Linked DNA regions of Homo sapiens. The gene in region 1 interacts genetically with each later gene. Each region holds a gene or a part of one and is shown on either strand. Other genes may lie near its edges.

The links. Genes that interact genetically often act in the same process or in processes that back each other up.
Region 2: of ATG7 (region 1) and EI24, changing one enhances a phenotype caused by changing the other (phenotypic enhancement), as found in Homo sapiens cells (one large-scale study listed by BioGRID).

What each region holds. Positions count from the first base shown.
Region 1 is NC_000003.12:11,362,897-11,366,396, forward strand, and holds part of ATG7 (ubiquitin-like modifier-activating enzyme ATG7), read left to right. Parts: coding exon 1-32; intron 33-1,762; coding exon 1,763-1,838; intron 1,839-3,500. UniProt on the Homo sapiens protein: E1-like activating enzyme involved in the 2 ubiquitin-like systems required for cytoplasm to vacuole transport (Cvt) and autophagy.
Region 2 is NC_000011.10:125,582,331-125,585,184, reverse strand, and holds the end of EI24 (etoposide-induced protein 2.4 homolog), read right to left. Parts: intron 2,840-2,854; coding exon 2,765-2,839; intron 1,665-2,764; coding exon 1,502-1,664; 3' UTR 501-1,501; downstream 1-500. UniProt on the Homo sapiens protein: Acts as a negative growth regulator via p53-mediated apoptosis pathway. Regulates formation of degradative autolysosomes during autophagy.

The DNA of each region.
Region 1 (3,500 bases):
TTGATGGTATCTGTTTTGCAGCATCCAGAAGGGTGAGTTTGCTAGTAGGAGATGAGTATTTAAACAAAGCTTTTGTAGGCAGTTGTTCATCAGTGTCTCCCATGGCCTTTTCTCAGTCTGACTTTACAGAGAATTTCACTATTTCACCCTCAAAAAAACAAGACTAGAAAAAGCAGGTCTGGTTCTTTGGGCTGAGATAACTTGGCATGTTTCCTTTGTGGCCACATTTCTGCATCTTTCCGGACAAAGTCACTATGGTTTATTTTATTTTTCCAACGCTTATATAGGGCTTACTTTGTGCTAGGCACTGTTCTAAGCACCTTAGAAATTTTGCCTCCTTCAATCTTTTTTTTTTTTTTTAACGAGACGGAATTTCGCTCTTGTTGCCCAGGCTGGAGTGTAATGGCACGATTTTGGCTCACTGCAACCTCTGCCTTCTAGGTTCAAGTGATTCTCCTGCCTCAGCCTCCCAAGTAGCTGGAATTACAGGCATACGCCACCATGCCCGGCTGATTTTTGTATTTTTAGTAGAGATGGGGTTTTGCCATGTTGGTCAGGCTAGTCTTGAACCTCTGACCTCAGTGATCAGAAGTGATTCACCCACCTTATCCTCCCAAAGTGTTGGGATTACAGGCGTGAGCCATTGCACCCGGCCTCCTTTAATCTTCATAGCAAACATATTAGGAAAGAACTATTATTATTAGTCGCAGTTTTGATGGGGAAATCAAGGCATAGTGAGGATAAGTAAGTGGCCAAATTTACATAGTAAATGGAAAAGCCAGGGTTTAGCTCAACCAGTGTGGCTCCAGACTATGTTTAATGACTTTGTTATGCTGTTTGCAATACAGGCAGCAGAAAATCGAATTTTTGAAAGATTTATTTTTCCAGTTCTCAGAAAGTCAATATGCAAATTAACATGAATATTCTATTTCTTGTGTGACTCAAAGCTTTCCTCAGCAGTTGAAAATTGTGGTTGTATATGTAACTAGTATGGGTACTCTGAGATAAATGAAAAGCGGGGCTTTTTTGTCTTCCTCTTTGTCATCCACCTTAGCTATCTGTCATTTAAGTTTATTGCCACTCTCTGACAGGAAGTATTTGGGATAAAATCTTTGAGAGCTGACTTTATGCTTCCTTGACACTGAGCCTCTGTCTGCCACATTTGCCCTGGTCATAGTTTAAACACCAGGTCCTGTGTCACATCTTTTTGGTGCCACAAGTATCACTCCATTGTTCAGAGAGTAGTGTATTAGTTCTGCCCAATTCATTCTTCACTTTTATTTCTTCCATTTCATTAGCATTTATATCAGCTCAAGAAGTTAAGGTTAGAAAATTTTCCACTTCAAATTTTCAGTACAGAAATGTGCTGTGATGTTTGACAAGACTATTTCATAGTAAGTGAGTTAATGTTTATTGGCCTCTGATATGCCGAACATTGCACTCGGCAGTTGATGTAGTAGATTCCTCATTTATTAATCAGAGCTCCCTCATTCCTACTTTATAGATGATGGATCTGAAGCACAGAAAAGTTAAGCAACTTGCCTATGGTCACAAGCTCAGGTCTTTCTGACTCCAAACCATGCATGTTTAAATTACTCTTCTTGCCCTTTGTCCCAGGGAAATTAGTTTTTTGCTAACTTACACTGCCCAGCAAGGGGCATTTTAGTTATCCTTATGAATCTTATGTAGATTTCTGCTAGATCATCCTCCCATGTGTTAAACTTGGATTAAATGAGCAGCTCTGATTGTTTCCTGTCCTCAGGGGCTATGCCATTGCCAGCAGCAGTGACGATCGGATGAATGAGCCTCCAACCTCTCTTGGGCTTGTGCCTCACCAGGTTAGTGATGTGGAAGTGAAATCACAATTCTTTTGGTACAGGGGGAAAGCATGTGGGGTCTCTTTGCCATTCCATCTGCCCAGCCCACTTCATATCCACCCTACTTACCCTGCAGCTGGGATTTCAATGGGAGAGCTTTCTGACCACCTGGAAGGTATTCCATTCTGCGGGATAGTGATGGGAGGAAATCACGAACGAGAAGCATTGCCCAGAGTCTTTGATGCGTTTTGTAAACTGACTAGAGGCCTCATAATGCAATAGGAACAGAAAAAACAGGCTTTGGAATCAGTCATACAATGGTTTAAATCCCAGCCCTGCCGTTATAAAGATGGCCTTCTTTGGCCAAGTCACTAAACTTCTCTGAGGCTTAGTTTTCTTATCTGTAACATAGAGAAGGTAATGCTGACATCACCTGGTAGTTGTATGGATTATGGATGGTTGCTAGAAAGGGCTCAGCAACAGTGTATATCATAGGCCCTCAACAAACAATGCCTGCTGTTTCTTTACTGTTGCTTGTTATTATTATTGACTCTGAACCCAAATAGAAAACCTTTATAGGCAGGCATGAGAAAAACATTAGAAGCATGCAGGGTCACCAAAAAGTGGGGTGTCTTTTCAGAAAAAGAATCCAAAGCATCATGAGGAAGTTCCATCCCTTAGGGAGTAAAAAGAAAAAGGCAGTGGGATGATCTTTTAGAATTCATGTTGCCTCTTCAGTCATTTTCATTACTATATTTTTGGGAGATTGAAGAGGTTTTCCAGTCTTATTTGGAAATCATTTTTTTTTAGATTCCATGTATGTATCCTCTCCTGTAATGTGACTGCTGTTCCCATCAGTGAAATCGTGATGGTGCCCACCAGTCCTATCTGGTGATTTGCAAGGACAGACTCAGACGAGTGCAGAGAGCAGAGTGACTCAGCTCATGCTTGTCTCTCTCTTCCTCCTCGCCACCCACCTTCTGCCAGCTAGGGCGGCACTGTCATATTCAGTTTAGGATGAGAATCAGAAGAGGGGAAACGACTTCTTCATGGTCACAGAGACTTAGTGGATGAGCCACAATCCATACCTAAACTTGGCAGTCTGACAAATGTTCTTTCAAAGGTCTTGTGAGTTGAAAGATCCGTGGCCTGCATGTTGGGAGATTTTGCTTCCTGTTGGTACCCCAGCCCCCTTGCACAAAACCACCCATAATAGAACTTGTGGGCCGGGCGCGGTGACTCATGCCTGTAATTCCAGCACTTTGGGAGGCCGAGGCGGGTGGATCACGAGGAGAGGAGTTTGAGACCAGCCTGACCAACATGGTGAAACCCCGTCTCTACTAAAAATACAAAAATTAGCTGAGCGTGATAGTGTGCACCTGTAATCCCAGCTACTCAGGAGGCTGAGGCAGGAGAATCGCTTGAACCCGGGAGGTGGAGGGTTGCAGTGAGCTAAGATCGCGCCATTGCACTGTGGCCTGGGCGACAGAGTGAGACTCCATCTCAAAAAAAAAAAAAAAAAAAATAGAACTTGTAGAGTTCACTTAGCCTCCCAGAGTCTCAGTTTCCAAATCAAGAAAAGCAGGTGCTTTACTTTGTGTCCAGGATTACATCTGACACGGCCTTGAAAACCACAAAACACTATGAAAATGTGCCCCCCTCTGTCCCCCACACACAAGGTGG
Region 2 (2,854 bases), on another chromosome or scaffold:
ACCATGCCCGGCCTAACCTATTTTATAGTTAATAGAGACGGGGTTTTACTATGTTGCCCAGACTGGTCTCGCACTCCTGGACTCAAGTGATCCTCCTGCCTTGGCCCCTGCCAAAGTGCTGGAATCCCAGCCATCAGTTACCATGCCTGGCCCCAGCAACAATTTTTAATTCCATATTTTATCTTGCACATAGTAAAGGTCTCTGTTAACCAGATGTTTAACGGCTTCCCTCGATTAATACTCAATACACCAATATCTAGGAGGGTCTTTCTCCCTTCATGAATATACAGTAGCGATATACATATAGACTTTAGAAAAAGTAATAATCTGACTCTTCTACCAAATATAAATGTGATTATAATCATATAATCCAGGCTTTCTCAGGGAACATTTTTCAGGGCTAATTTCTCAAAACTGTAACTAAATTATCCAAGACAAAGTCTTATATTCCATGAATACATTTCTCGAAATCAAGATTTGCAAATTCAACCATTAGACACTTTGTGGGAAACCAGCTCATGTTTAATTGTGACATTTTAAAATTGTACAGGTATTTTGACATCTGCCCCCCACATTTAGTCTCTCAAAATGACAGGAAAACAACCAATCACAGGTTTAATACATTGACCCCTTCAGTTCCTATATGCAGCACCCAATATTCCTTTGAAATATGAAATAGACCTGGCAGTGGCCAACAGTAAATTTCTGCCCGCTGCCTCCCACCACCAACGGAGTTGAAAAGTTCAGGTTTAGTGTTGTTGTAGTGGCACTTGTCCAGAATTGGTACCTCCCCATAGTTGGGGGACTTTAAATGTACCAATGAAAATAGCTTTTTCCCCTTCAAGGGGAAGAAAGAAAATCACTCCTCAAAACCCAGCAGATCTGGCTGTGAGGTCTTTCCTCCTATCTCATCTCTTCAGGCTTTTTTTTTTTTTTTTTTTTTTTTTTTTTTTTTGCAGTGGAGCAAGAGAGACCAAAACCTAACCTGAGTTACAAGAAACAAGACAGTAATGGCTATAAAGGGAGTGACCAGGAGCAACTGGGACACTCCTTTACCTCCCATATCCAATGTATGTGTTTCACAGAAAAACAACAAAATTAACAAATTCACAAAATACAACAGCTAGAATTACAAAATCCATTCATCCAAGGGTGGTAGAAGGCAGGATGGAAAGGTGGAAGGGTAAATGGCACAGGGAGAAAAACAAAGTGTTCCAATCAGTCCAGGCACAGGGACTGGCAAATGCTAGAAAATAGCTGCAGAAAAACCTGTGGTCCTTTCAGACTCACGGTGATGTTAAAAATCCACACACTGGTGTCAGGGAACATTCTGCCTTACGTGCACCAGAGACAAAAATTTCAATTCCTCAGAGAGAAGGGAATACGCAGAGGGCCCTTGGCAGAGCGGGTCCTGCCTTCCCTGGCAGGCGGGAGGTGAACAGGGAAAAGAGCTGCCACAGCTTCTTCCAATCCCGCCCATCCCCTTTGGATGGCAGGCAACTCAGTGACCTGCAGTAGCCTTCAGTTTGGCAGGCGACGGATGCGGTGAAGGGAACTTCTCTGCAGAAGTAGAGCTGCTCAGGGCCGACTGCAGGTAGACTGTCTTGTGGAAGAGTCTGTTGCTTAAGAAGACCACCAAGGAGAAGAGGCGCAACTGGAAGAGACTAAAAGGCAAGAAACCCAACTTGTTAGCTCCCCAGTTACTCAAAATTATTTCCGTTGTTTGACAACTTGACATTAAATTTAAAACTACACAGGGAAAGACAAGACAAATGAAACTTGATCAAGGAAATACAGATATTAGATACATGGATGGAACAGGCAACTAAAGAATACATTGGAGCCGGGCGTGGTGCCTCATACCTGTAATCCCAGCACTTTGGGAGGCTGAAGCAGGTGGATCACTTGAGAAAAAAATTAGCAGGGCATGGTAGCATGCGCCTGCAATCCCAGCTACCCAGGAGGCTGAGGCAGGAGAATCGCTTGAACCTGGTAGGCGGAGGTTGCAGTGAGCCGAGATCACGCCACTGCACTCCAGCTTGGGTGACAGAGCGAGACTCCGTCTCAAAAAAAAAAAGAATGCATTGGGCCCTGCTGCTGCCATGAATGTAATGCAGTCACCAGCGTTGAAGTATTGTGGCTCTTACAGGAAATAGTTATATTTTAGATTAACTTTGATTTGAGAAGTACTTTTCTATGGCTGACTTCGGGGTACAGACTTCAAGCTATGTCTGAAGGTATCATATGCTATCTGTGGTTGCAGGAAGAAGAGTTTCAAAAGAAAGTCAAATATTCCTCTTAAGATAAACAGTGAGCTGTGCTGTATAGCAAGAGCATACAAAAACCCAAAGCAGACCTAAGTCTCTAATACAAGTATCCACACTGACTTAACCAAAATTGATCAAAGATGAATTGAGCTTTTCTTTGAAGTAATAAAACTTTTAGAATGCTATTATTATTGCTAAAAACTCATTTTAAAGTATATTTTACTACTGTTATCAATAAACTCATGTGGCCAGGTCATACAGCCCTCTACTTGAATATGTATAATGGGATCGGTTTTGGAAATATATATATACTCATGTGCATATATGCATGGAGAAAAGTTTGGGTTATATCCCAGAAGTGTTTCTCTCTCATTAAACCTTATATTAAGATTTTCCTACAGTAAGAATTTTTTTTTTTAAAAAGCCTCACTGACATAACTGGTGTTACAGCCCCAACCCTTTACACAGCAAAAATTTCATCACTGGCTAATACTTACTATGCTTTGCCAGGGGTCTTTGCTTCATTGGCGCTGATAATGAATAAAGGAAAGAGGATAGAGAAAAGGCAGCCACTGTTTAAAAAAAAA